2 separate regions of the Homo sapiens genome follow, and region 1 is linked to region 2. Evidence: fine-mapped expression QTL. A gene starts in region 2. The other region holds a variant in brackets. All regions are shown on one strand. Distances are between the middles of the regions.

Region 1 (14,925 bases), 62 kb before region 2:
TCGCGCACCCTGCATTTTTCCTACCTTGGGGACATCCCTCCTGTGTGCAGGGTGCTCGTCTGTAGCTCCTGTTTTTGACATGGAGGTGGATTTTCTGCACTGGCTTCTATGGGCTCTGCCTTACGCCATTGCTGTGTGGCCTGGCTGGGGCAAGGTGGGCTCCTGTGGACTGGATGGTGGCTGCAGCTGCCCCCGTGGGGCTCATACCAATGCCATGCCCATTCCGAGTAGGCATGTGTTTGCTCAGAACTGAGGAATCTGATTTTTGTTTCTGCTTTTTATTTGTTTCTCAGGGGGCTGGGGTGTCTGGATTCTCTGCTAAGTGCCAGTGACCTTGAACTTGAGTGGCTAGGTGCTGTGTAGGCAGAGTTGTCACAATGGAGGAGGGGACAGAGAAACGCATCCACCCCCACCAGGTTGCTCACCACAGGGCCAGCGCGCTCTTCCTGCTCTGGGACACTCACCGAGGCTGAATTCCACGTGGCTCCCGTGGCTAGGCAGATAGATGCAGCTAAGGGCTTAAAAATGTTTCTATCCCAAAAGGAGGTGAGAGGTTTCCAGGAAAGTTGCGCTGTGGCTTATCGAGTGCTTGTAGCTGTGGAGGCTTGTCCATGGGGTGTTTGTGGGGCCCTAGGAGACAGGACTTCCGGAGGCAGAGGAATGTTTCAGGGGCTAAGGAGAGACTCAGCAGACCTGGAGCCCGCTTAAGCTCATCTCTGGTGGCCTTGTGGGTCTTTCTCTTCCCTGTCCCTTTTCCAGTCCTGTCTGGCCACCCCAACTGGCGAAGGCCTCAGGCATGTGTTCTTGGATCGGGGTGGGGGTCTCAGGTCTGTGGCATGAGTGGGGGCGGGTAGGGCTGGCCGTGCATTCAGGGCCTGGCTGAACTACTGAGTGTCCAGCATGAGGCTGGGTCTCGCAGGCACGTGGCAGGTCATGGCCCTGTGCCATCTGCGGTTGGGGGCCACACAAGTGGAACTCCCTGGATCGCTGCCCTGGGGGTTGGCTGGCCTCTGGCTTGGCCATTTCTCGGGGCGGCTAGCACCCCTCTTCCTCCTGGCTGCTTCTCACAGGAAGGAGCGAATGCGTGCCGGCCACACGTGGGAGGGCAGGGTAGGATGCCTGTGGCTTTCCCAGGCGCCTCCTGGGGAGGAGCTGATGGGTGCTCAGGCCCCAGGGACTCTCTGGTTCCAAGGAGCCTCAAGGGCAGTGGGGCCTCGGGCTTGGGACCCAAGCCCTGCCTCTCTCCCTGGGGAGGCAGAGCAGGGTATGGGGTTGGGTACAGTGGTGGGTACTTGCTAGCCTCTTCTCGGCCTGGGGAAAGGCCAGGGCACCGAGCTGGGACCCCATATGGCCTGGCCTCAGAGTGCACCAGGCTTTGGCTGGCTAGTCCCCAAGGGCAGCCGCTCTCCAAGGGGACTGCGGGTTGAGCAACTTCTTTGCTGTTTATTTTTTCACGGGCTCAGGGCGGCGTCACACTTCAGGGAGAGCTGGATGGGGATGGCGGCCCCTTCCTGGGCCGAGAGGGGAGGAGGTGGCACAGGCCCATGTCCATGTCTGCCCGCAGAGCCAGCAGCCACCCCCGCCCAGCCAACACCTCCCCAGGCCCAAGGGGGACGCGGCCCTGAAGATGCGGGCGTCAGTGCGCATGACCCGGTACCTCGAGTCCTGGGGGGCGGCACGGCCCTTTGCACATCTCAACCACCGTGAGAGCGTGAGCAGTGGTGAGACCCACGTCCCCAACGGGCGGAGGCCTAAGGTAGGTCCCCCTCCCACCCAGAAAGCCAGGGATTGGGGCCCCAAGCCAGGAGCAGGAGAGTGAGTGCTGAAGATCTCCTGCCCTCTCAGCCTCACTGTCCCCATCTGTAAAATGGCCACAGCCTCTGCCCCACCTCCTGGGGCTGGAGAGGAAGCAAAGACATTTGGAGAATACTCCGGGATGGCCAGGAACATCCCTGTCCTCCTTGATGCCTGGACCACGCTCAGCTATAGTCAGGATGTCTGTGGCTTGGACGACCCCGACACCTTGTCCTGTGTATCAAGTGCCGGAGGGGCTGAACCTGGCCCAGCAGTGGCCTTCAGGGCCCAGTGTTCTGGGGAATGACTGTATCCTTTCCTCCCTTCCCTTTCAGAGCGTTCCCCAGCGCCACCGCCGGACCCCAGACAGGTGCGTGCCCTGCCCTCCTGGCCAAGTCCTGCTGCAGCCACCTCCTCCAAGCAGGCTGCCCTGAGCAGCCTCTGTCCAGTGGGCAGCTCCGCAAGGCCCAGCCCAGGACCTCTGTGAAGTTGGCCAGGGCTTGGGTCAAAGCATTTCTAGGAACCAGAGTTTCCTGGCCCCTGGCCCTTCTGCATGGCCACATGATGGAGCACCTGTTGTATGGTGCCCTGGCGGGGTCAGTGGAGTCGGTGGAAGGGAAGGAGATGACTGTGGGTGTCCTGGTCCCCATGCCAATCCCGGGGGTGTAGCCGAAGATGCCTTAGACTGGGGCTCGGGTCTGCCCTCTGCCTCTGGCTTGGCTGCTGGCCAGCTGGGCCATGCTGGGCCATGCTGGGTCCTCACTCGCCCTCTCTGGGCCTCAGTGGGACCCACCCATTCCTTCACCATCCCACCTGAGGTTCTGGGACCCCACTGGTGTCTACGTCCACACCCTCCTCTGGGAGAGTTGGAGGTGGTCGCTGTGCTGATGCAGTTGTGGGTATCTGATTCCAGAAGCATGTCCCCCAAGGGGCGGTCGGAGGATGACTCGTACGATGACGAGATGCTGTCAGCCATTGAGGGGCTCAGCTCCACGAGGTGAGGTCTGAGACCTCTGTCCACCCCCCTCTCCTCTCCCCCTCGGATAGGGGTCCCCTATATGGGCAGGCCCATCTCATACCCCATGCCTGGTGGCCCAGCCTTGTTCCTTCCCCCTGCCTGCTGCCACCTCCTGAGGGAATGGACCCCTTCCCAGCCCCCATCTCACCGCAGCTGCCCCCGCCCACAGGCCCTGCTGCTCCAAGTCCGATGACTTCTACACCTTTGGGTCCATCTTCCTGGAGAAGGGCTTTGAGCGCGAGGTGAGGGCCCCCAGCAGCCTCCTCCGCAGAGGGACGGGGTCTCCAGGCCTGGGGTAGGGTGGGGGACGCAGGTCATGGGGCAGCCTGCGTTCCCAAGACCGGCTAGGGGAGGGGCACTGAGAATCCACAGCTGCTCCTGGGCGGGGGGCAGGGGCGGGGCCAGTGCAGCACCAGCCTGGCTCTCTCCTGTCGGCTTCATTCCATGACCCAAATGCACCATCAGAGATTTGCCTCCATGGGTCTGCAAGACTTTTGCTCCGTCCAGTGCCAAAGCCTTAGCAGATCCTGGCATGGATGCCTCAGGCTGATGGCACCGGCCTTGCAATGAGACGAGAACCCAAAGCTCAGTTATCAGTGTCCTGTCTTGCTGCTATGAGCTTTTTGTACTGATAACGACCATTTCTTTACTGAGCGCCTTCTGGGTTCTGGCAGCATCCTCGGCACCCACATTATATAATTTAACCGTCACAACGGCCAGCCCAGGGGTGCTGCTATACCACTTCACAGAGAGGAAACTGGCTCTCAGAGGCTTCAGAGCCTGTCCCCAGCTTCAGGTGTGGCTCCCTGAGTTGGGGGCTTCCTAGGTGAGGTCACGAGGAAACCTGCTGGCCAAGTGACCTGGCAGGGTGTGGCCAGTGTGGCCAGGGCCGCCGAGCCTGCTTTCCTTCCCTGCAGCAGGAACCCTTCTGGGGCTGTGATCCTGCGATGGTGCCTGGGTGGGAGTGGGGGTGGGGGGCGGGATGGTCTCCCTACCTGCCAGCTTCTTGGTTTGAGGTGAGGACAGCCCCGGAAGCTCAGACTTGGCTCCTGTCCATGTACTTGGGGCCATGAGCTCTGCAGGGACCTTGGAAAGAGAGAGACGGGTGGTGTAGGGCAGGGGAAGGCATTGTCTTCAAACAGGAAAAAGCTGAGAATGGAAACAGGCGAAACTTACCAAGTGTAACATCACCTGGAACTGAAGGAGGGTGGGAAGGTTTTAATTATTTTAAAAATAGAGATGGGGACTCACTATGTTGCCCAGGCTGGTCTCAAACTACTGGGCTCAAGTGAACCTCCTTCCTCGGCTCCCAAAGTGCTGGGATTACAAGCGTGAGCCACTGTCCCAGCAGGGAGGTGTTTTTTTTAAAGCTGATTCACTGGAGGCAGGGTGGGCAAGTGGCACTGCTGGTGGCCACCCCTCACAGTCCCTGCTGCCCCCAGTACCGCCTGGCACCCATCCCCCGGGCCCGCCACGACTTTGCCTGCGCCAGCCTGATCTTCGTCTGCATCCTGCTCGTCCATGTCCTGCTCATGCCCAGGTCAGTTGCAGGGAGGGGTGTGGGGGTCCGGCCTGCTGGGATCCAGGCTGGAAGGTGACTATGAACCTGCAAGGAGCTGTGTGATTTGGGCTGGAAGGGGTCGGCTGCTGGGGTCCTAGCAACTGGACCAGGGGCTGTGGCAGCACACCTTGAGTTACCAACACTTCTTTTTAATAGAATGTGTGTTTTCTGCCACAGGCCTCCCTACTCCCTAACGTCTCTCTCCTCAGCCACCTGTCATATGTGTGGCCTGCATGCATTTTGGTTGACAGCCCTTGCCTTAGGTGTTTGGAGTGCTAGGAGGATAGACTCTGAAAACTGTAGGCGCCATCCTTTTTCTCTTATATATAGGGAAATTGGGGCACAGAGGATTAATGATTTATCCAAAACTCACTGAGATTCATGCTTCTGGCTCTAGGGCCCTGCTGGTGGGGTATAGGGATGAGGGTGAAGTCAGAGGGAAGGGGGATCTAAGGTCAGCTACTTGGTGCTTTCTAGAAGAGCAGTTAGGCCGAAGCATCGACCAGGATTGTGGTTTTGGCTATGCTTACTAAAGACATAATAGGGAGGCTGTGCGTGGTGACTCACGCCTGTAATCCCAGCACTTTGGGAGGCTGCGGGGCGAATCACTCGAGGTCAGGGGTTTGAGACCAGCCTGGCCAACATGGTGAAACCCCGTCTCTACCAAAAATACAAAAATTAGCTGGGCGTGGTGGCTGGCGCCTGTAATCCCAGCTACTCGGGAGGCTGAGGCAGGAGAATGGTGTGAACCTGGGAGGCGGAGGTTGCAGTGAGCCGAGATCATGCCACTGCACTCCAGCCTGGGTGACAGAGTGAGACTCCATCTCAAAAAAAAAAAAAAAAAAAAACGAAGAAAGATGTAATAGGGAATGCGTTTTTACAGTTTTTTCTGAGTCTAAAGGCTGCAGAGACATTGCTCATTTCTTATACACTTGGACCAAAAAGAGTGATATGGTCTTGACCTCAATCTTCATAATCTAGCTGGGCCCTGTGTATTGCCCATGGGGCAGCTGGGCCACAGTTTTCACAGGTCCCCTTTGCTGTGGGCAGAATACCAGGTAGGGTGGGGACAGGTGGCTGTGAGCCAGAGGATTGGTGGGGGCGGTGGTCCTGGGCAGAAGGCCCTAGGCAGAACTGAGGTTCTTCCCTCCTCTCCAGGACGGCGGCACTGGGTGTGTCCTTCGGGCTGGTGGCCTGTGTACTGGGGCTGGTGCTGGGCCTGTGCTTTGCCACCAAGTTCTCGGTAAGTGGGGAGCTCTGGCCCCGCGGGCCCTCCCTCCCTGCCTCAGGACACCTGCCTAGGAGCCCTCCCTGGTGAGCTTGGCTGGGCTGAGCCCCTGCTCTGGTCAAGGTTGGGTGCCCATCTCTCCTGCCTCGGGGACAATTTCCTGAGTGCCCTGGAGGCTTCTCCCGAGGATACCCCTCCCCAGGCTGCCAGCGACCAGCCCTCCTTGCCCAGGCTGTTGGCTCTGGGTGACTTGACCCTGTTACCCCACAGAGGTGCTGCCCAGCTCGGGGGACGCTCTGCACTATCTCTGAGAGGGTGGAGACACAGCCCCTGCTGAGGCTGACCCTGGCCGTCCTGACCATCGGCAGCCTGCTCACTGTGGCCATCATCAACCTGGTGGGTCCCGTGGTGGGGAGGCAGGCCTCCGGGGTAGAGGGAGACCTCCAGATTTGGGACGCCTACAATGTGGCCTTAAAAGCTGCCTCTGGTTGTCCTCTCCCCCGAGCTCAGCAGGTGGATGTGGGGGGTTCCCCTTTGTACACTCAGGGCTCCTCACCTTTGGGTTCTCAAATGCGGACTTTGGGGGCCCAGAGAGCTTGTGTGGCCAGCTCCAGGAGGATGTGATGCCTTGAGCCACCACATCCTGACATCCCATTCATTCTTCACGGCCCTTCTGAGACTCAGTTTCCCCTCTCAGGGATGAACCCTTGCTCCTCTGCTGGGGCTCAGAGGCTCAGTGCTGCAGAAAGCAGCCTGCGGGACACTTGTCCACCTCTCTCCCAGACCCCGCATCCTGGGCTAGGGCCTCTCCCTCACCTCTCTGCCCCGGACCCTGGGTTTTTGGAATGTGTTCCTGTGACCACCTCCCTCAGGGTCACCTGGGGAGGCTGAAAATGTTGGTCCCGGCCCCTCCCCCTGGCTGCTGCCGCTCTGGGGGTGTCTGCACCCTCATCTCCTAGCCCCTCTGCCCTCTGAACCTGACGGCTGCTGTGGGGAGTCGGCA[C/T]GGCGGCTTGAGCCGTGCTCAGAGCTGATCCCAACGTGAAACCTCAGGCTGCTGTGATACTCATGGTTGCCTGGGGCCCACCTTGCATGGCTTGGGCAGGTTCCAGCGTTCTTGTCCCTGGACTGATGGGGACCTGTCTCCTCTACAGCCCCTGATGCCTTTCCAAGTTCCAGAGCTGCCTGTTGGCAATGAGACAGGCCTACTGGCCGCGAGCAGCAAGACAAGAGCCCTGTGTGAGCCCCTCCCGGTGAGTGCGCCGGGCCCGGCTCCGTGGCCTCATTCAGAGTGGGGCTGCTGCTGCCAGAGGTGTAGTTTGGACCCTCAAAGCATGGGTGCTGACCCCTGAGAGCACAGCATGTGGAGGCTGAGAACAGCCTCTCCTGCAGAGCTGGGAAAGCAGGGTCCCATGGGCCCAGCTGGCCTCTGGCCCAAGGGAGTGAGGAGTCCTGGCCTTGGCAGGCTTGGTCTAGGCTGTGTGGGTAGGCAGGGAGTGAGGGGAGCATCTGGCCTTGTGCGGGTCTCTGGTCAGGGCACTTCCTCTCTGACAGGCCTGTCACTATTTTATACACGAGTATGCACAGCTCAGGGAGGGGCTTCATTAGGTGATGGCGCCAGGGCAGGCCCAGACAGGCTGATGGCAGAGGTCAAGGTCTCTGCCTGGAGGGCCTTGCAGACAGCAGACTCTGCAGCTTCAGAGGCTGGCAGTGCAGTGAGCTGGGCTCTAAAAGGCAGAAAGGTTCTGGGACAAGGGACAGCATGGGAAAAAGCCGAGGCGTGTGTTGGGAGCAGTGGGGTTTTGGGTGGGTTGTCTCCTGGAGAGGGAGTGGGGAGAACTGGGAGATGGAGCCGGGGGCAGGCTTGATCCAGACTGGGAGGTGCAGGAATGCCGGGGTGTGAAGAGCGTGGTCTTTATTCTGGGGGCTGGGGAGCCACAGCACAATCTTGAGCAGGGCAGAGGTCCTTTGGGAGGGTAAGCTCACAAAAACTCAGGGAGGCAGCTTGGATGCATGCACGCTCCGGCCTTGACCTTGACTGTGGTCTGTTGTATCCACAGCACCTGCATACTGTTTTTTCCCGTTTAAATGAGCTCACTTCATAAGAAATAAAACTACAGTGAAAACAACACTGGACACTCTTAGGTCTCATTGTTTTTTGTTGAGAAGGGAGGTGGTAAGGCAAGAGCGTGATGCTGAGGTGCAGGGAGTGGGGCTCTGTGGTATGTGCTGGGCTGGAGGCGAGAGTACGTGGTGGGGTGGCCCTGTCCTGAGTGACACCCTGCCCCCTCAGTACTACACCTGCAGCTGTGTCCTGGGCTTCATCGCCTGCTCGGTCTTCCTGAGGATGAGCCTGGAGCCAAAGGTTGTGCTGCTGACAGTGGCCCTGGTGGCCTACCTGGTGCTCTTCAACCTCTCCCCATGCTGGCAGTGGGACTGCTGCGGCCAAGGCCTGGGCAACCTCACCAAGCCCAACGGCACCACCAGGTGGGGTCCCGCCCGTCCCCGTCCCCATCCCCATGGTGGCCTGTTCATCTGGTGCCTGCCTGCTCGCACCAAGGGGCTTCTGTGTTCATGGGGAGTGGGCACCTTGCAGGGCGGGGCTGGCAGATGGTGTCCAGCGCTCAGAGCCGAGGAATTCACTGGCAGGTTCTTTAGGAAGTCCCTAGTCTGACAGAGGCCACCGGGTCATCCTGTTTCCAGGCCAGTCTAGTGGTGGGGAGGGAAGGAGGCTGCAGCTCTAGCTCTGTGCCTCTCAAGGCCACATCCTGGGTCTCGAGTTCTGGAAGGAGCAGTTGCTTCCATCTCTTCCTGGACAGGTGGTGATACCTGAGGCTGGCAGGGCTGGGGTGTGTGGTTCTAGGGGTTCTGGGTCCCAAGTGGATTAAGGAGCGGACCTGGCCCCCCTAAACAAAAAAGCTGGAAGCCTGGGACCCAGAACAGAACCTGCTCCTGTGGGTCTGCCCCGCACCTGCAAAATCCTTATGCCACCCATCCACCCCACCCCGCCTGCCACTGACCCTGGCTCACCAGTTCTGGGCTCCCTTCAGGCCCTCATCACAGCTGATTCTGGTCATTCAGGGGTGAGATCAGAGGTCTTCCCCACAAGGGCTCCCCCATCTCCCTGCCCACCTCTCCCCTCCCCCCTTTATAATACCCCAAAGTTGTCTTGTTTTCTACCCACCCCATTAGAATCAATTTTCCCCTTTCCCCTGGGTGTGCGTGGCACCTGGAGAGCATGACTCAGTGGGTTGGAGTGGTGAGTGCTGGGAGTGACTTGGGCCTCCCTTCGCATTCAGTGGCACCCCTAGCTGTTCCTGGAAGGACCTGAAGACCATGACCAATTTCTACCTGGTCCTGTTCTACATCACCCTGCTTACACTCTCCAGACAGGTAAGGAGGCTGGCCCCCCCCCCCCCCCCAAGCTCTGCCCACTTTTCCTCACCTCCATCTGGAGATGGGGTGGGGTGGGGTGGGCTCAGGTGGAGTAGCAGAAAAGACTAGAGTCCTGCCAGGAAAGCACTGGTCCCCTGGCCAGAGGCTCCAAGGACGCCAGGGACAGACAGACCTGGCTAGGAGATGCACAGCAGCACGGCTCCCACTTGCCTGTGGACGGGGCGCTTATGTTGCTGCCGTTTGCAGATTGACTATTACTGCCGCTTGGACTGCCTATGGAAGAAGAAGTTCAAGAAGGAGCACGAGGAGTTTGAGACCATGGAGAACGTGAACCGCCTTCTTCTGGAGAACGTCCTGCCAGCCCACGTGGCTGCCCACTTTATCGGTGACAAGTTAAACGAGGTGTGCTGAGAAGGGGCTGGGGCGGGGGCAGGGAGGCGGACGGTCCAGGCGCAGTCCGTAGGGTGAAGGTGTGGAGCTGGAGTGCATGCTGAGCTTGGCTTCCTCAGGTCCTGGCCTCACCGGGATGCCCAGGCGACAATGTATGGCATCAGCTGTGAGAGCATGGGCCTGGGGTCAGGGACCTGGGCTCAAGTGTGGTCGTGAACAAGGCACCTTGCTTTCCCAGGCCTTGGTCTTCACCTCTGTAAAATGGGCTGACAGCCCTTCCCCACAGGCTTGTGGCGAGGATGAAATGTGTGTTCAGGGGTTTGTGATCTGGACATTCTGTGTTGATGAAAATGTCTGTACTTCTACTAGTTATGTGTAGCAAGTTTTCTAGATAGGAAACGGAGGCCCAGTGAGAATGAAGACCTCCCGTTACCCTCCACTACTGCAGAGGTTCTCACCCCATGTGTACATGGAAACACCCATGGTGCTTCTGTGAGCAAAAACCAACCTGAGCCTGACCCTCCCTGGCCACCCAATTCTTAATCACCCGGTAACAGCCACCAGATGAAACTCATGCAGCCCGCCCCCCTCCCCACTCCCCGAAAGCTGGGCTGGGCAGTTCAGCAGTGCCATCTGCTCCTGAGGCCTTGCCACTCTTCCTGTCCCCTCAAGAGGTGAAGTGGTGTAAGGTCCGGTTTCTTCCCATCCAGGACTGGTACCATCAGTCCTATGACTGCGTCTGTGTCATGTTTGCCTCCGTGCCGGACTTCAAAGTGTTCTACACAGAGTGCGATGTCAACAAAGAAGGGCTGGAGTGCCTACGCCTGCTCAATGAGATCATTGCCGACTTCGACGAGGTACAGCCTCTAGCCCAGCCTTGCGCAGCAGCCCCCACCCATGCTGGAGAGGGAAGGGCGGTGGCACCTGCCATCCTAAAACCCAATTTAAAAATGTGACACAGAGCTGGGCAAGGTGGTCTATAATCCCAGCACTTTGGGAGGTCAAGGTGGGTGGATCACTTGAGGCTAGGAGTTCGAGACCAGCCTGGCCAACATGGCGAAACCCTGTCTCTACTGAAAATACAAAAAATTACAAGCTGGGCTTGGGGCGCACACCTGTAATCCCAGCTACTTGGGAGGCTGAGGCAGGAGAATCGCTTGAACCTGGGAGGCGGTTGCAGTGAGCTGGGATCACGCCACTGCACTACAGCCTGGGCAACAGTACACAACTCTGTCTCAAACAACAACAACAACAACAAAAAAAAAACGACGTGGCCCGCCTGGGGGGAACATACATTACACAGAATATAAAGGTACACATTTCTTTTTCATTCTGTTTTATGCAGCAAATAATTCGTTGGCATCTTCTCTGTGATGGGCAGCTTGCTAAGATTAGACTCAGGCCCCTTAGCTTCATTTCCAACTAAGCCCACGCTATCAACCAAGCCAAACAGAGGAAATCAGTTTGGGTTGAATTCTTTGCTGGAGACAAAGAATCTACATTCCTGTGTAGATAATGCTGTGTTTGCTCTGTGCAGACACAGATGGAAGGGAAGAGGGAGACAGTGTGGGGACGGAGACAACAGGAAGAGCAGGAGCCGCCAAGGGCCATGTCCTCACCATGCTTAGTCATGCGCTCAGCTGGCAGGGCAGCCATGAGACGTGTGTGCGAGAGGCGGCGATGGGTGGAGGGAACCCCACACCCTTCCTGAGAAGCAGGGGCAGCCTGGCTGCGGCTATGGAGTGGCGGCTGCTTCACCGCTTCCTTCTTGCCTGCAGCTCCTACTGAAGCCCAAGTTCAGCGGCGTGGAGAAGATCAAGACCATCGGCAGCACGTACATGGCAGCTGCAGGGCTCAGCGTCGCCTCAGGGCACGAGAACCAGGTACTCAAGCCCAAGAGGTGAAATTCAGCTGACTGTCCTCACTTAAAGGTGACCTGTCACCTTACTTAAAGGGTGTGCCCTTATCTCGTCCTGGGGGAGGGGCACAGGTACTTGTAGGGCTCAGCCAGGATTTTAGTGGTGGGGATCCTCAACAAGAGTGGCGCGCCAGGGCCCACTAGGTCTGGGGGCTCTGGAGATGCAAGGATCTGACCCACAGCCTGTCCCGCAGGAGCTGGAGCGGCAGCATGCCCACATTGGTGTCATGGTGGAGTTCAGCATCGCCCTGATGAGTAAGCTGGACGGCATCAACAGGCACTCCTTCAACTCCTTCCGCCTCCGCGTCGGTGAGCCCGGGTGATGGAGCGGGGTGGGGAGCCCCTGCCTCTAGGCCAGTCCACCCAGTCTGTGTGGCACAGCTGCACCTCGCCATCTATTATGAAAGGTTTTAGAAATCCCTCTGATCTGACAAGCTCAGCAGTTGGACAATTATTCTGATGTTTTGCATATAGTTAGCATATAGTTACCATTGAGAGTTTTAATAATACGTAACTACAGAAAATGGAGAACCAAAATTATTGTCTGTAAACAGGTGACCTTAAAATATAGAGAAGGAAGCAAAGTTACTAAACCTAAATAGTTGCGGGCCTGCGCTCAAAGCCAGGCCTTTGTTAATACTTTTAACAAAGTATTCTTTGTTAAAAGAGAGATTAGCAGATACAAGTGTTAACATCAAACCCAGACTTCTGAGTCTGAAAAAGAGCTGGCCGGGGAATGCCCTCCTCATACCCCAAGCCCGACTGCAACGCAGTGACTCTGGGAAGCAACCCAGCCTTCACTCTAGTTGTTTTGTCCCCGCATCCTGTGCTGGGGTATGGATTCTCTGGCCTCCTCTAAGGGCAGAAGCTTGAGGCTTTGCCTGCACGCTTGGGTAACTGTAAACATCATCTTCAGGCATAAACCATGGGCCTGTGATTGCTGGAGTGATTGGGGCCCGAAAACCTCAGTATGACATCTGGGGAAACACTGTCAATGTGGCCAGCCGAATGGAAAGCACTGGAGAACTTGGGAAAATCCAGGTAAAGACCTATTGGGGAAGCAGTTGACTAAGGGGAAAAGATCTTCCCCAGAGGTGAGGGGACTTGGACTTAAGAGCTGCTGTCTCACCCAGCAGCCATGGTTCTAGCTATCACACTCTCCAGGGAAGGCAGACTGCATGCCTGGGCAGTCTCTATCTGTCCCTACCATGACAGGTGTTCTTCCCGCCTCTGAAGACAACAGGTCTCTCTTCCTTTTCAGGTTACCGAGGAGACCTGCACCATCCTCCAGGGCCTCGGGTACTCTTGTGAATGCCGTGGCCTGATCAACGTCAAAGGCAAAGGCGAGCTGAGGACTTACTTTGTCTGTACGGACACTGCCAAGTTTCAGGGGCTGGGGCTGAACTGAGGGCTCCTGCTGGATTCCGAAAAGGCCGGGAAGCCAGTCTCCTTCCCTGAAGCAAGCCCAGGAGAAGACTCTCCGCCCCACGCCAATCCCAAAGGCATGCAGATGGCTGTGCATGTTGGCTTCTTTGGACCTGCACTGGAGGATTTCTCAGACACATGCACCAGATTCTGGCTCGAAGCAGCCACTGAGCCATAATGCGCAGGGGAGGCCAGAAGCTCTGTGCCTGGTCTGTAACAGTTTCCAGGCCAGCTGGAGAATGTTCACTGGTTCGGGGCTGACTTTGAGATCTTTGTTCCCTGAGGTGCCAGGCAGGCAACTTTAGCACATGATGAAAACAGACTTCCACCTCAGTGGCCTGTGGGCACGCACAAGTGAGGTCTGTTTTTCTAGACACCAAGGGGGAGTAAGCTGAGCTGTCTAGCACGGATTGGAGACTCCCTCTCCCTGGTGGGCCTGGCAATGACAGCATTTCTCACAGAGGCATTCTGGTAAATGAAGCTGAAAGGGGTGTTTTACATCTGTAAACGGTTTCAAACAGGTAGAGAGAAAAACACCACAATTAACACTGTTACTTTTTGCCTTGTCTGGCATGTTTGTTTTAAATGAATACATTAATGGGGTTTTTATCCTTTTGAATGACTTTTCAGACACTAGACATAAATCTCTTCCCTCCAGTGTATGCTCTGCCTTTTTAACCACTGACATGTAAGGAGGACTACTGTCTAGCATCAGCTTATGGGGTCAGCTGGCTGTGGGGATAGAGTCCTGAGGAATGTGGTCACAGCAAGAAGGCGGGGAGCAGCAGAGCCTTGCCTTTGAATGAGGCAGCTTGTGAGGCAAGCATTCTGGAGAGAGGTGCTTTGAAAGTAAGGTGCGGCCTTTCACCTCTTCCTTGATTACTCACACATCTTTGCGTTCTCCCCTGCCGTCCTTCAACTGTATCTTACTTTTCTTACCAGAAAGGAATGGAGTCTGTTTAGAGACAACTTGGACAACCTGTGAGTGCATCTCTTCTTTCCTTTAGTCTTCACAGCTAACTCTGGAGAGCTTCAAAACTAGAAGGATCTACTCCGCATGGGTGCATGCAGAGGCTCCTGGATCTGGGAAGCCCGCCCCCTCACAAATGCTGAGCCGTTCTTGCTCTGAAACTGCGTGAGTCAAGGCAAATGCAAAAAGCCAGGTTTTGGGGATGTGTCTTACTGTGCTTCAACTTCCCAAGGAATTGAAAGTCAACCTAACTGTAACAACAGGGTGAGAAATGACCAAACTGCCCGTGACTTTTTCTGAATGGACTTCATAACCGGAAGACTTAACCGGTGGCCTCATCACCAGAGCATCGCCAGGATTTCTAATGCACTCAGTTTCCCTACATAGCAGGGATTCTTAGCTAGGTGTCCCCATGAACCCCGTAAAGTTCTACACAAAGTCTTGCATACAGGAGCCTTTACAAGATGATTATACAGGGTTGCAGATTGGGTGACTGACCAGACTTGTTGGGGTCCTGGGATGAGTTGCCCCGGGCTGCAAATTAAGAGTACAGCTAAGTGCGGGGGTGGCGGTGGAGGGAACGAAAATTGAACCTGTCTGCCTGTGCTGTGTCGTGTGGCTTTATCAGCCCGAGGAAGGGCAGGTGTATTCTAATTTGCACAAAGGTGCTGGGTAGACTAGTGGCAGCTCTCATGTGCTGCACATAAGTGGAATCAGTATGAATAGAAGAACTTGCTGTATAAAGGAATTTCATGGCAACAATGCTGGTAAGGGCAATTAGCCTCGCTTAAGTTGCCTTTTTTACACACCAAAACTTTTTACATGAAGGGCTGGTTTCACATGAATACTATACTGAAATCTGTGCTCTCAAGATCTAGCAGTGACCAGGGCTGCCCGGCGGGGGCTCTCCTGGCAAGTCAGGAAGGTTTCTGTTGCTAATATAACATAGAAACACATTAGTGCACTGGGCCTCTCTGAGGTCAGCATATTTGTACTCTTGGAATATTTGTTTTTTTCTTCAGTAACAACAGAAACCCCAGTTGGGAGTTTAACAAATAACTGACTACCACTCACTCATGCATTTTTATTTCCAATTAAAGCAAAGCACTGTGCTGTGCTCAGATAATAATAGTTTGTAAGTAAAAGTTTTTAGTTTTCAGTGTTCAGGTTATAGAATATAACTGACCATAAAAATTACCTGCAGGTATTTTCTTTTTATGAACTTGTT
Region 2 (14,150 bases):
CAGAGAAAGCAAGATACTCCCGTATGCAGAGAGGTGGACACCTTTGAAAAAAGCCTAAATTCCAGAACCCTGGAAAAGCTCAGAACTGGAGGAGGCAGGGAACCTGAGAGTCTCCAAATCTCGAGACGAGCCAAAATAAGGAGAAATGCCAGACTCAGAAAACTGGGTGGTAAGACCTTCAGCCCCTGCCCCATAGTTGGCTCCAGAAACACGGATAAAACTGGCAAAATCCATCTCCTAGGAGAGGAGGATTTTTCTCTGGAGAAACTAAAAATCCCAGAGAAAACATCTGTAAGGTACAGACATTGGGGCATTCTTCACCAAAATGACTGAGTCCCTGTTAGTCACTCTACAATAAAGTCCATCAACTGACAAACTCTGTCTAGGTACAAAGCATTTACTCAGCTTTGTACAAACTGCAAAAGCTCAACAGACAACTAAAGGATGCTTTCAACAGAAAACAGAGACAGACAAATAAATGGAAGAATTTGGGAGAGAGAGACAGGGCAGGGAGCAAAAGAAAACTTAGGAGAAAAAAACAGGAAAAAACTTCGATTAATATCCTCAGAGAAAGAAAAGAATATACTGCATCTAAAACCAAGAACAGGGTGCTAATTCAAAAAGGACAGTTAGAGAACAAGAAAAAATTCTTGGAAATTCAAGGTATAAGATCTGAAATAAATCTGGAAAAGTCAGAAATTTTAGGGATGTTCCCTGAAGGAAGAACCCTCCCCCACCCCACACACACCCAGAAAAAATATGAGAAAAACATAAGAAAATTAGAGGATCAGTTCAGGAGTCTAATATCTAAAGGGCAGGAGTTCCAGAAACCAAGAAAAGAAAAAATGGAGGGAAAGAAATGAACACAGGAATACTTCAAGCACACAGCTCTGAACTGAAGGCACAAGTATTCATTGTGAAATGTCAGAACACTGAAGATAAGGGGGGAAGATCCTAAAAATTTCAAGTTAGCAAATACTGGTCATATGCAAAGGACTAAGAATCAGAATGGCAACAGACTTCTCAACAGCAAATTTAGAAGCCAGAAAACAACAAAGCAATGCCTTCAAAAGTCTGAAAGAAAATAATTTTCAATCTAAACAAGTCAAACCATCAACCTGTATGAGGGCAGAATACAGATTTTCAAACATGTTAGAACTTATAAAATCTACCCCGTGTATGCTTTCTTAGGACGTTCCTAGAGTTAAGAGTCCACCAGAACAAGGGAATGAATCAAGAAAGAGGAAGGCATGAGATCCAGGAAGCAGGTGAAGGAGAGTCCCAGGAGGCCTTGACAGCAACTAATTCAGCCTCCAGGAGACAGAAAGCTGTAAGATAAATGTCTCCAGAGGAAAATAAAAAAGGAAGTAAAGAACTCAAATGAGTTTCATAAATCTTAGAGTTTGGGAAGAATTATTAAGCAATAACCAAACAAATGAAAGCAATGATCTAACTAGTTAAGATCAGATCTATATTTGCATACTATACTTGTCTACAATCACTTTAATATTGATTTAACCAATAATTGTGATGTACCTATACCTTGAGCAAGGGAAACTGAATTCTCATCTTCCATAACATGATGTCAGTAGAAGATATAAACTGCTAAATCAGTAAATAGCAATATAAACCTTTATTTTGAAATAGAAATAAGTAGGCAAGGAAAAATACCTAAAAAGTGTCCAGAGTGGAGCAGCAGCCTGCTTTGTGTCAAAAAGCTGTGTAGTACTCTTGACTTTTAAAAATCATCTTCACGAATTACTTTACTACTATTAATTAAAAAAAACAACTGGTTACCTCTGAAGAGGGAGTCTATGTGAAGGATTGGGGTGAGGAAAACTTTTTCCATTTTGTGTACTTTTGCACCACATGAACTACTTTTAAAAAATCAAATGCATATATGGGTTTTATAATTTAAGGAAGAAAACAAAACATTACTCCTACCTAGCCAAAGGTAATAAAAACTGGGACAAAAGGGAAGGAATAGACTTAAGAAATCCCCAAAATAAGATCTCTAAGACTTGGTGACTTAGCAATGTGTTCAATCACATGGAAGAGAAAGCTCCTCTTGTATATATAAACATAAGAAAAATTACATAACTAACCTATGAAAATTTACCTTCACAATAATTGATGTAATAAGTCGTTCAGTGGCAGGTTAAATTTGGAAAGTTAATAACAGTAATAACAATGTTATTATTATTAGAGACAGAGTCTCGTATTATTGCCCAGGCTGGAGTGCAGTGGTATGATCATACCTCACTGTACCTCAAACTCCTGGGCTCAAGGGATCCTCCCACCTCAGCCTCCTGAATAGCTGGGACACAGGTGCACACCACCAGGCTCTGGAAATTTTTGTAGTTTATTTTGCAGAGGCAGGGCCTTGCTATGTTGCCCAGGCTGGTCTCGAACTTCCAGCCTCAAGCAATCCTCCCACCTCGGCATTCCAAAGTGTTGGGATTACAAGTGTGGGCTACTGGGCCCAGCCATTAATTATTATTTTGCCCAGCTTTCAAACCAAGATGGTAGCTACTCATTCTTTTCTGTTAAATGCAAATGGTTAAGAATATCAATCTCCATTACAGGTTTCTGACCAAATTTTCTCAACACACTACAACACTGTTTTAAAAGATTTAAAGTTGCTCATTACAGATTTGGCATTATAATATTTATTTCAGAACAAACTTTAAACCCCAGTAGATCCCACTCGCTTCTGAAATGACTATTTTTGACAATCCTTGAACACTGAGGCTTTCTTGAGCATGACTTTTTACCCTGCCTAGATGGAAAAACCATTCTTTGAAGCAGCTCCTCAAAATTTGGACTTAGCTGCTTCCTCACCTGATGTGCGAGTACAATTGCCTAAGAGTATAATCCAAAAACGACTTGCTGAAACTCATAGATGATTCATGTCTCTATTCTGTCCTGCTCCTCCTCAAACGAGCCAGATCTTAGAGGCGTTTGTTTTCCCCAGATACAAAGAAAATAAAATGAGGTTGGCACCTGGAAGAGGCAGTGCCGTCCGCAAAGCCAAAGCAATGTAACCACTTGTACCTTAACTCTTCTCCGTTTTCTCCCCTTTTCTTCCCCTGGAATCTGCTTCTCTCCTTTCTTTCTCTTTTTCCGCTTTCTGTCCTTGTGTTTGTCATGATCGTTTTTGTCTTCGAAGAGGCTGGAGTCGTGCCCCGAGCTGCCCGTGGAGAGTTCGGTGACTTCGTTCCCTCCTACTTTGAGGACCAGCTTCAAGGGCTTCTCTACATACTCTTAAAAAAAGAAAAGAAAAGAAAGGAAAGCGCGTCGATTAAAATCGGGGCTCTCCAGGGAGTGCTAAGGATGCAGAGCGCCAAGGCGCAGCAAGCCCGAGGCGGCTTTGGGCGCTCCGCGAAGCACCTGTTGAATGACGGACCCCGGCCCGGGGGTGCGGCGGCGCCGCCCGCCCCGAACGCTCCCAGGCCTCCCGGGCCCGCCTCACGTCTCCCCACCAGAGACCCACCGGACCAGGGGGACCCGGGTTCGAATGCCGCGGCCGCACGGGGGGCAGCGCGGCCTCCGGCAGGACGCGCCCCCTTCGCCGGCCTGGGCCTGCCGTGGGAAGGAAGGGCCCCGGGCCGCCCCGGAGCCACTGGGAAAGAGCGGAAGCCCGGCAGAGCCGCCGAGGGCCCGCCGCCCGCACCCCGGCCCCCTCCTCACCCTCGTAGAGGTGTTTGTCCGACTTGTGCTTCTTGTGCTTCTTGCCCATGTCCGACCGGGCCCCGGTGCCCGCCCCCCGCGCCAGGCCCAGGCCGTGCGGCGCCGCTTCCGGTCCGGGCCAGGCGAGCGGAGGGCGGGAGCGGGGCCCGCGAGACCCCGCGCCGCGAGGCAGGGGGGCGGCGCGCGCCGGGCGGCGCGATGCCCCTCTCGAGAAGACGGCGCGCGAGACCCGGCCGGAGCCCGAGAGCGGCGGCGGGGGGGGCGCGCGGCCGGCGCAGAGGCGGGAAAGAAGGCCCGCCGCGCGCACAGGGTGCCGGCGGCTGCGGGTGGCGGCCCCTGGCGACCGGAGGTGGTGCTGCAGCTCGCGGGCCGGGGGCGGGGCCGAGGGCGGGGCCGGGGCGGGATCCACCGCTCAGACTCTCGTCTTTCTTCCTTCCTCCCTTTCCCCTCAATTTGTCTGTCTTGTCTCTGTCTCTGTGTGTCTCTCCCTCCGTCTCCACTTCCCTCCCTTCTTTTTACTCCCTCCCTCTCTTTCTTTCTCTTTCCCTTCTTCCCTTCCTTCCTCCTTCCTTCCTTTCTTTCTTCCCTCCTTACTGCCTCCCTTCAAGCCTTCCTTCTCTCTTTTCTTCCTCCCTCATCACCCTTCCTTCTCCTCTTCCCGTCTCCTTCCCTCTTTTTTTCTTTTCTTTTTTTCCCCTTCCTCCTTCCCCCACTCTTCCTTTCTTTCCACTTTCCCTTGCTTCTGTTTCTTCCCTTTTACGATATTGACTGAACCCCATACTGGGTGCCAGACCCAGCAAACTCAGCACATTGGTGACTGAAGATTCTAATCTTAAAAAAAACTTATGTGCTGATAGGTGAAGGTTACCAGACGTTTTGACTGTCTTTACTTCTAGCTGTATGGTGCTTTGTCTGTTTTCAGATAAGCTCGTAATTATAGTCTCCTCTTAAGAAAGGATCTGTTATCAGTCATTTATACTTTAGTAACAATTTAGACCCATGAATCACCTCTCCCAGGAAGATTTGTAGCTTTACCTTGAACTTCAGTGGTGAAATTATAGGCTTATATTTTAGGACCCTATTGTTGGCAACTAATAGAAACCAATTTGAATTATTTCAAGTAAATAAAAAGGGATTTATTGGTTTACATGTCTAGAAAGGGCAAGAATAAAGCTTGCCAGAGGGAAGACAGGAACCAAGGATGTAATGCTGTTGACTGGCATGCCAGCTCGCTCTCTCTCTTGTCTCTCTGTATATCGGTCTCCATCTCCCCCCTTCTTTCCTATATGGCTGGAAACATGGCCACCATCTGCTTCTGAGGCCTCTTCTTTATAGTGTCCTGACCAACTGGGAAAAAGATCTCTTCCTGTCAGCTTCACCTGGAAAACAGTCCCAGGGAAGGACTCTGATTGGCTTGGCTTGTGTCACATGTTTTATGGGACAGGGGATGGGAGATTGATTCGGCCTGGATGCCAAATCTACCCCCTCACCCCCTTGGCCAAGAGAAGTGGAGTCTGTGATTGGCAGCTCCTGCCAGACTTCTATGGTTAGCCAGGGAAGATGAGGTTCTTCTAATGAAGAGAGTTGCTTTTTCATGAAAGCTAAAAGTGTGTGTCTATTATTTCCCTGTAACAAGCCTCTCTGGTGTCCGTGAGGCAGAGATCAGGGTGTGGGAAGAGGGGTTGTGTTGGGGAAGAGACCTTCTGCTGCTCTGAAATCAAGCCAGCTAGGCCCCCTAGGCCCCCTAAGCATAGGGCAAAGCTTGGTTTCAGCTTTTCATCCACTGTCTGTAACTTATTTTGCTTTAAGAACCACTATGCCAACTCCCACTGTGGGTCTGGCCTCTATTGTGGCATTGCCTTGCTCCAGGCTCAACCTGTGGGTTTACCTGTCTGCTCCTCATTACCCTGGGTACCTCCTTGGTACTTACAGTGCCTAGCACAGTGACTACTACTGTCCAAATGCCCCTCAGAGGAAAAAGGTCTGGTGAACTCATCCATACTATCAAGTTAGTAATTTCCCTACCCTCTCAAGAGTGATTCTACATAGGTCACAAAGTGGTCACATCAATGGAAAGTGAATAAGAGTACGTAGCAGAAAACACCTCCCAGAAAAATGTTCCTGGAAGTGGAAGCCCAAATTCATCTAGTTTTAAATTCTCAGCACTAATACCATGCCTGGCACATAGAAGGCACCAGAAAATGCTAGTTGAGCTGCACGGTCCTGGTTCGGGCAGACTCCCCTGAGAGATTTCTGCCTGCTGCCATTCATGACCTCCCAGTGAGTGTAGAATGGCCTGGAGACTGGCTTCAGAGCAATAGAATATGGCAAAGATGATGGACGTCACTCCTGTGTTGAGGATACATAAGACTTCAGTCTTACTTGCTGACCGTCTCTCTTGCCTTCTTGGCTTGCATGTTTTGATGAAGTAAGCTGCCATGCTGGAGAAGCCCATGTGACAAAGACCTGAGGCTGGGCCCCAGTTGACATCCGGCTACAACTGAGGCTATCAGTCCAACAGCCTTGAAGGATTGAATCCTGCCAGCAACTGTGTGAGCTTCAAAGTGGATCCTTCCTCAGTGGAACATTCAGATGAGACCTCAGCCCTGGCTGACATCCTGATCACAGCCCTGTGAGAGTCCCAGAAGCAGAGGCCCCAGTTAAGCTGTGCCCAGACTTCTCCCCCAACAGCCCAACAGCTCTTGAGTGAGTGAGACAGAGCTGACTTGAGTCCTGGGGTCACAGATGCTTACAGGGTCTGTGACTTTGGCATGTCCTGAGAGGGCTGCCTACCTCTGAACCTTGGAACCAGGGTGAGGTCATTGGGTGTGCTGCTGCAACAGGGTGGTTGTAAGGATCAAAGAAGATAATGTGGTCAGAGTGCCGAGAGTAATGCCTGATATGGTAGATAGTAAATGGTCAATAAATATCAGCTGCTAATACTAACTTTTAAATATTTGTGAATGTCACTTTCCTGCTCAAAACCATCTTGTGGCTCCCTGTCTCACTCGAAGTCAAAGCCAAATCTGCACCTTGGCTTTCAGGGCCGGATCTGGCCCTCATTCTCTTTCCAGCCCCATCCCCCTGCCCCCTCCTCCCTCCTGCCCCAAGCCCCTGCTTCTCTTCCCTGTGTTCAGAACACTCTCCCCTGAGCTCCTGGAGTGGCTCCTGCCCTCACATCACCTTGGTCTCCCCTGTGACCACCTCAGAGAAGCTTCTGGACCACCAACCCACACACCCCTTCCCCTCTTCCCTCAGCCTGTGCAATGCCTTGTTTCTCTCCATTGCACCTACAGCCTCCAAAATTATGTTGAATATCTCTTCCCTATCTGTGTGCGTGTCCACCATCTGTCCACTGGCTTCCCAGGTCCCCAAGGTTAGGGACTAGGTCTGTCTCACTCCTGGCTGTGTGCCCCGCACTTAGCACAGAGCTGGGCTCAGCACAGGCCCTGGAGAAATATTTGTTGGACAAATGAATACATCATAATTACTGTGTTGTGATAATAATTCTCTTCCTCCTTCCTCCCCTTTCTGGTGGAGACACGAGGTGACTGGAGCCCTCCGGGAGAGTCTGTGGAGGAGAAAGCCTGGCCACTGGGGGGTGTGGCATGCCCAGGAAATCTCTGCGCAGCTCAGCTTGGAGGTGGCCCCTCTTCAGCCTGGCCTCTCTGCTGAGGAGTTGTTGCCCAGGGTGCCTTCAGGCCTTGGTGCTCTGACAGAGAGGACGCTCTGGGACACAGCTGATGTCCTTGCCACCTGACCCTGAGGTAGAGTGTGGCCTTCATTGGTTGGGTGGGATGAGGGCTGGGCGAAACTCAGGGGCCTTGGTTCTGGGACACCCACTGGGAACCCTTTATAGCTATTCCCCTATAGCCAACAAATGAAAGAGGGCTGCTGGGTGCTGACCTATGATCTGGACAGACTAAAAGCCTCAAACATCAGGGGCTTCTGAGCCCCCTCGCCTCTGTTTGGCTGTACTCCTCAAAGCCCCCTTATGCAGCACTGATGCAGGATGGGGAACTCCTGAGACGGAGAGAATCCTTGGGCTACTAACTTCTTCTCCTGCTTTCCTTTGTCTGAATCTCAGTTTTCTCCTCTGAGGGATGGGCAGAGCCAGCCTCATGCAGCCTGTGTGGCTGGCATGAGGGTTAGCAAAAGCAAGGAGTGAGAAATGTTCTGGCACAACACAGGCCTTCCCAAGTGTAATGGGGCAGACGGTGGGTGGGAAAGGGCCGGTTCTCCTGGATACTCCATGGGGATTCCTGCCCTCTGTCCTGGGGTGGGAGGTGGCATCCCCTGAGCCCAGGCTCCCAGCAGCTCCAGCTAGTGCCTCATTTGGCACCAGGAGCAGGTCTGGGCCTTCCTGGTGCCAGCCTGATGCCAGCCTGTGAGTGCTGCTGGGAGAGGCCTCAAGAGGCTGAGGCTGGTTCAGCAGGCAGCTCTGTGGGGAATCAGTGGCCTGGGGTGATTCGCTATGACAGGTTGTTGACAGTGCAGCTTCCAGGGTTGCTCACGGTCACTGGCGGAGCAGCCCCAGCTGCTGCCTCTGAGTGAGGAAAAGAGAGAGGCGGTGGATGGCCGCCATCCACGCAGGCATGCCACATGGCCTCTGCCCACACGGTCTCAGAGCTGCTTACTGGAGGGCAGCGAGCCCAAGCCATGACACTCACGGCTGCCAACCCCAAAAGTCATTTAGCCTCAGAGCCCTTGATCAAATAAGACAGAGGCAACATCAGGACCTTCCTTCCTTCTTTCAGTTCATATTTTCTGTGTGCCTACTATGTGCTGGGGGGTGCTAGGAACACGGTGGGAGTAAAATAGACACAGCCCTGCCCTTATGGAGAGCACAGTGAGATGCATGTTAGACAGAGAACACAGACAAATATTTAATCATGGCCATGCTAACGGTTAGAAAGGAAAACAGCAAGCTGCTGTCCAGATAGTGCTCTGACCCAGGCTGAGGGCTCATCCAGGCCTAACCTGGAGGATAAGTCTTGGTTAGGTGCCCTACAAGTGGAACCTGAGGCGTGGATCTGTTGGGGTGGCAATTGGGGAGAAGCTGGGAGAGAAGCAGGACGGGGTGGGTAGAAGCAGAGAAAGAGGTGGTCCCAGCCTCAGCCCCGTGCCACAGTGGTGGCGGGGCGAGGGGGGATTGGGAACATCAACTGTCCAGGGAACAGTCCCACCCTGTGGGAGGTGGCTGGCCTTTTGTAGCCCATGGTGGGCAGCGAGGTCTGCCTGATTGTCGCCTATTACAGAGGTGACTCTAGTTTGTCCCAGGGCAATTCTCTGAGGGAGGTGTGCGGCTGCCTTCCGTGAGTGGCCAACACTCCCAGCTGCTGGTGATGCCCCTCCAGCAGGATGTGCCTTCAGGAGAGGTGAGCCAAGGGGGCATCAGCTGCATCTACTAAACAGGCAGAGAGGTCAGCATGTGCAAAGGCGAGGGAAAGTTGGGTGCAGTCAGGGAGGAGAGGAGAGCAGGTTTGGAGCAAGAGAGATGATGGGGACTGTGTCTGGAAGAAAGGCTGGGCTGGGCAGAGCTTTTCAAGGCATGGCAGAGATGCTTGATTTTATTTGGGATGCCCATGAAGGCAGTGGACGTGGGTGCATGGCCATATTGGCAATTTAACAAGAGCGCTTTGGCTTCTGAATGAAGGAAGAATTGGAGTGGGTTAGGAGACCGGGCAGAGAGACCAGCTTAGAAGTGATGTGGTCTTCAAAGGGGAGATGGGGGTGGCTTGGTCTAGCGTGGATGATGTGGGGATGGTGCAATGGGATAATTCAAGAGTTATGTAGGAGGAAGAACTTAGGAGGGGTTAGGGATGCCTATGCAGAACCCAAGAGGAGAATCCAAGTAGGAAGGTGAATGCATGTGTCTGGGGCTTGGAAGGGAGGTGAGACCTGAAAATAGATTTTTGGCATAGAGATGTCTTTGGAACCTCAGGAGTGAATGAGACCACCCAGGAGGAGAGAGTAGAGTGATCAGAGAAGATGGAGCCTTGAAGAGCTTCAATATTATCTAACAGGTGAATAAAGGATGAGGAAGCAGCAGAGGAGACTGAGGAGGGGGAGGGAGGCAGGAGGAGAAGCAGGAGAGTAGGACACCCAGCAGGGGAGGACAGAGCACTGGAGCCAGGTGAGGGCAGTGGCGGGCTGAGAGTGTGTAGAGGAAGGAAAGCTCGGCCAGGCTGCAGGGAGCCTCTAAGCACTGGAAGGGCTGGGGGAGGGTGGATCAGACAAGTAGACTTGTGCATGCAAGGCCACTGAGGTGATGCTGGAGAGTGGGAGGTGTGATGAGACAGAGATACAGAAGGGAACACTGAGGCCTTGAATGACAGGCTGTGGGGTGTGGACTTCCCCCTGTAAAGTGGGATAAACCAGATGAAATGGTCACCTTGGAGAAAGCTGGGCATTTTCCAGGAGCCCCAGGCTGGGGACAGACCATGAGCAGCTCAGAAATGATCCTGCAGGCCCGGGCTCCCGGTCCATCATGATTCCTTGGAGTACTGCCCTGCGGACGGGGCCCAGGATTAAATTCCCTTCACAGAAAGTCACTATGTGTTTGATAAACTCTTATCAGACTGTGGCTGTGGGCTTGTGCCATGTCACCCAGATCTCTAATTTCATAGTCCTGGCTCTGCCAAAGACTGGCTGTGAAACCTGGACATGTCTCTCCCCTATCTCCATCTAAACAGGGCTGCAGAAAGAGGAGGAGTCAGTCAGATGCGCTGACTCATGCCTGTAATCCCAGCACTTTTGGAGGCTGAGGTGGGAGGATTGCTCAAGACTGGCTTGGGTGACGTAGCGAGACCCCATTTCTATAAAAAATTAAAAATTAGCCAGGTGTAGTGGTGCATGCCTGTGGTCCCAGCTACTCAGGAGGCTGAGGCAGGAGGATCACTTGAGACCAAGAGGTGAAGGCTGCAGTGAACTATGATTGTGCCACTGCATTCCAGCCTGGGCAACACAGTGAGATCCTGTCTCAAAAACAAAAAAAAAGGTAAAAAGATAAAGAAAGAGGACTCGACTGGCTGCTTTCAAGCTGTTGGTTCTAGGGAAGCACTTCTGACGCTCTGTCAGTGTCTGATAAAGACTTTGTTTTTAAAAATATGTGTGTATTTTAGGTTTTTCTTGATTCAGTTATTTAGTTTTAAACCTATTTATTGCCTAAGTAATTAATGTTTGTTATAGACCAATTGAAAATACAAATAGGTGTAAGGAAGATATTTCAAATTGCTCATAATCTCACCACTTTCTGTAATAGTTTGGTATATGTCATTCCAGATATTCTCCAGTGGTGTTTTTTTTTTTTTTATTAGAGTTTGGTGGTGATTCTTTTCTCCCTGCCTCAGGGGATAGATTCATGATACCCCTTTATTGAGCCTGGCTACTCAAAGATTGGTCCAGGGACGGCTGCATTGGCAGGACCTGGGAGCTTGGTAGAGATGCAGAGTCTCAGGTCCCACCTCAGGATTGTAGAATCGGAATTCACATTTTAAACAAGATTCCTGGGTGATTCATATATGTGTATTAAAGTTTGAGAAGCACTATTCTGGAACATTAGCTTATACTTAGACTTAATTTTCTTGGACAAGAGAAAGGGAACATTTCTGAAGTTGGAACAACTAGACATCAAAAGGAGACCCTTTGACAAAACCAGATAAACTAAAAGGTTCTTTTTTTTTTTTTTTTTTTTTTTAACTCATAAGCCCACAGAAAGATGGAAAATATCTGAGGGACTTTTCATTTACTTTATTTATTCATTTATTTTAGAGATGGGGTCTTGCTGTGTTGCCCAGGCTGGAGTGCAGTGGCTATTCACAGGGGCGATCGTAGTGCAGAACAACCTTGAACTCTTGGGTGCAAGCAATCCTCCTGCCTCAACCTTCCAAGTAGCTGGGACTACAGGCGTGTGCCACTGCACCTGGCGTTTACCCCAATTATTTAAAAAGTTTCTTTTTCTTTCTTTTTTTCTTTTTTTGAGACTGAGTCTCACTCTGTTGCCTAGGCTGGAGTGCAGTGGTGCAATCTCGGCTCACTGCAAGCTCCGCCTCCTGGGTTCATGACATTCTCCTGCCTCAGCCTCCCGAGTAGCTGGGACTATAGGTGCCCGCCACCAAGCCCAGCTAATTTTTCGTATCTTTAGTAGAGACGGGGTTTCAACGTGTTAGCCAGGATGGTCTCGATCTTCTGACCTCCTGACCTCCTGATCTGCCAGCCTCGGCCTCCCAAAAAAGTATTTTTAACTATTAAAAAAGAACAGTGATAGAATGCTAGAACTTATTCCTTCTATCTAGTAATTTTGTATTCATTAACCAACTTTTTTTTGTGTTTGTTTGTTTTTTGTTTTTGTTTTTCCTGTGAAGCTTTTATTTTGGGCAGAGGGCAGGGAGCTCAGTCCTTCCTGGCAGCTGCTTTCTTCATGGCCGCCAGGACGTGGCTCAGCTCCTCTCTCTTCGTCTTGGCATAGATGTGTGTTAAGCAACCTCTTTCTATCTGCCTTCCCTATTCTTCCCAGCCTCCAGTTACTACCCTACTTCCTGCTCTAGCCTACCCTCTACTTCCATGAGATCAACTCCTTTAGCTTCCACATATGAGTGAGGGCAAAGGATTTAGCCTTTAATCCTGCAGTATTTCTCTTTCTGTGCCTGGCTTATTTCACTTAATGTCGTGTCTTCCAGGTCACCCATGTTATTTCAAACAACAGGATTTCCTTCTTTTTTTAAGGCTGAGTAGTATTCCACTGTGTATTTGCTTTATCCATTCGTCTGCTGATGGATATTTAGCTAGATAGGAGGAATACATTTTAGTGTTCTTTGGCACTGTAGGGTGACTATAGTTAATAATAATTTATTGTATATTTCAAATAGCTAGAAAAGAAGATTTTGAATGTTTTCAACACAAAGAAATAATAAATGTGTAAGGTGATGGATGTGCTAATTACTCTGATTTGATCATTACACATTGCATATATGTATCAAAATATCACTCTGTACCCCATAAATATGTATAATTATTATGTATCAATTATAAATAATTTTTAAAAAGTGATTGAAAACCTCCCACACATGCAAATATATAATAAAATTTTATACATTGGAAATGAATAACACATTGACATTTGGGTCTTCATTGATTGTAAAAAGTAAATGTTAAGAACTTTTTTTTTCTTTTTTTTTTTTTTAAGATGGAGTCTCACTCTGTCTCCTAGGCTGGAGTACAGTGGCATGATCTTGGCTCACTGCAACCTCCGCCTCCCAGGTTCAAGTGAGTCTCCTGCCTCAGCCTCCCGAGTAGCTGGGTTTACAGGCATGCACCACCACACCCAGCTAATTCTTGTATTTTCAGTAGCGACAGGGTTTCCCCATGTTGGCCAGGCTGGTCTCGAACTCCTGACCTTAGGTGATCCACCTGCCTTGGCCTCCTGAAGTGCTAGGACTACAGACGTGAGCCACTGTGCCCAGCCAAATGTTAAGAACTTTTAACGTAAAAGATAAAACACATTTGCACTAACAAGCTACTGCTTTTATTTCTCACACATAGGCATTCTGCTTAAAACTTCATTTGAAACAAGAAGCTGCTGAAAATCTTTGAAAACCACTCAGTGATAGGACTTCCAGGGGCCCTTCCACGGCTCTGTAATTCGGTTAGATAAAACATTATAATGATCAGATGTTTTTATTTTTAAAATACACATCTTTTAGCAGACCATAAAGCCACACACAGATTAGTTGAGCTTGTTGTGTGGCTGGATAAAGTCAGCTGGAACTTGATTTAGGGGAAGAACACTGAACTGGAGATCACAAAGCCTGGTTCTCATTCTTGCATTGCTTGGCCTCCATGTGACAGTCAGAAACCCATCCCTAATGAGGTTGAGCTTCAGGTGTGGCTATATCCAGGTGCTCAAATGATGTCCCCAAGATTCAGGCTTTCTCTCTCTCTGGTCTACTTCCTTCTGCCCTGGTCCCATCCTCAGACAGGCTCCATTGGCCTCTAGAAGCTCCCAGATGATATCCTCATAGATCCCAGTCCAGAAAAAAAGGGAATGTGCCTTTCCCCAGTGGCCCATCAAAAGTCACAGGGCTATGTGATTGGACTGGTTTATATCATGTACCCACCTAGAGCCTATGACCATGAAGGGGTGGGATGTGGGTGGAGGGTGGTCAAGGTGGTGGCAGAATTCAGGGACAAGTGAATCCTAGACCATGGGTCTTCTAACCCAGGAGCTTGGGAGGGAGACGAGTGCCACCTAAACCACATGGCCTAAGTAAGTTGGGATCCCTTAGAAAAATTAGGGTACTGTGACCAGAGGATTGGAGAATGGATGCTGTACCCAAAGTAACCAAGCATTAAACAAAACAAAACAAAACAAAACAAAACAAAACAAACACCTGTTTCTAAACTCAGTTTCTCTACCTGCCTTGAGAATGAGCAGGTTGTGAGGGCCCAATGAGAGGAGG

What was found. PIP is the estimated chance that this variant, and not a neighbour inherited with it, causes the effect.
Region 1: its variant is the best candidate, but not a certain one, in a credible set for the expression of BRD7 in whole blood (INTERVAL, PIP 0.86).

What each region holds. Positions count from the first base shown.
Region 1 is chr16:50,302,796-50,317,720 of GRCh38, forward strand. ADCY7 (adenylate cyclase 7) reads left to right here. Exons shown (of 26, transcript NM_001114.5): 11 at 1,565-1,756; 12 at 2,130-2,164; 13 at 2,708-2,791; 14 at 2,982-3,054; 15 at 4,255-4,352; 16 at 5,532-5,616; 17 at 5,872-5,997; 18 at 6,753-6,851; 19 at 7,892-8,085; 20 at 8,898-8,991; 21 at 9,241-9,396; 22 at 10,095-10,241; 23 at 11,163-11,267; 24 at 11,497-11,611; 2 more. The coding sequence ends at 12,710. It overlaps BRD7 (bromodomain containing 7), which reads right to left. Exons shown (of 17, transcript NM_013263.5): 17 at 13,162-14,925. Among named protein-coding and RNA genes, the nearest start is that of MIR6771, 18 kb to the left of the region's middle. RefSeq lists enhancers at 7,043-7,337, 10,637-11,836. The variant C/T (reference allele first, on the strand shown) is at 6,605.
Region 2 is chr16:50,365,036-50,379,185 of GRCh38, forward strand. BRD7 (bromodomain containing 7) reads right to left here and starts at 3,953. Exons shown (of 17, transcript NM_013263.5): 1 at 3,691-3,953; 2 at 3,055-3,263. The coding sequence starts at 3,739. RefSeq lists silencers at 3,342-3,851, 3,882-4,131, 9,703-9,997.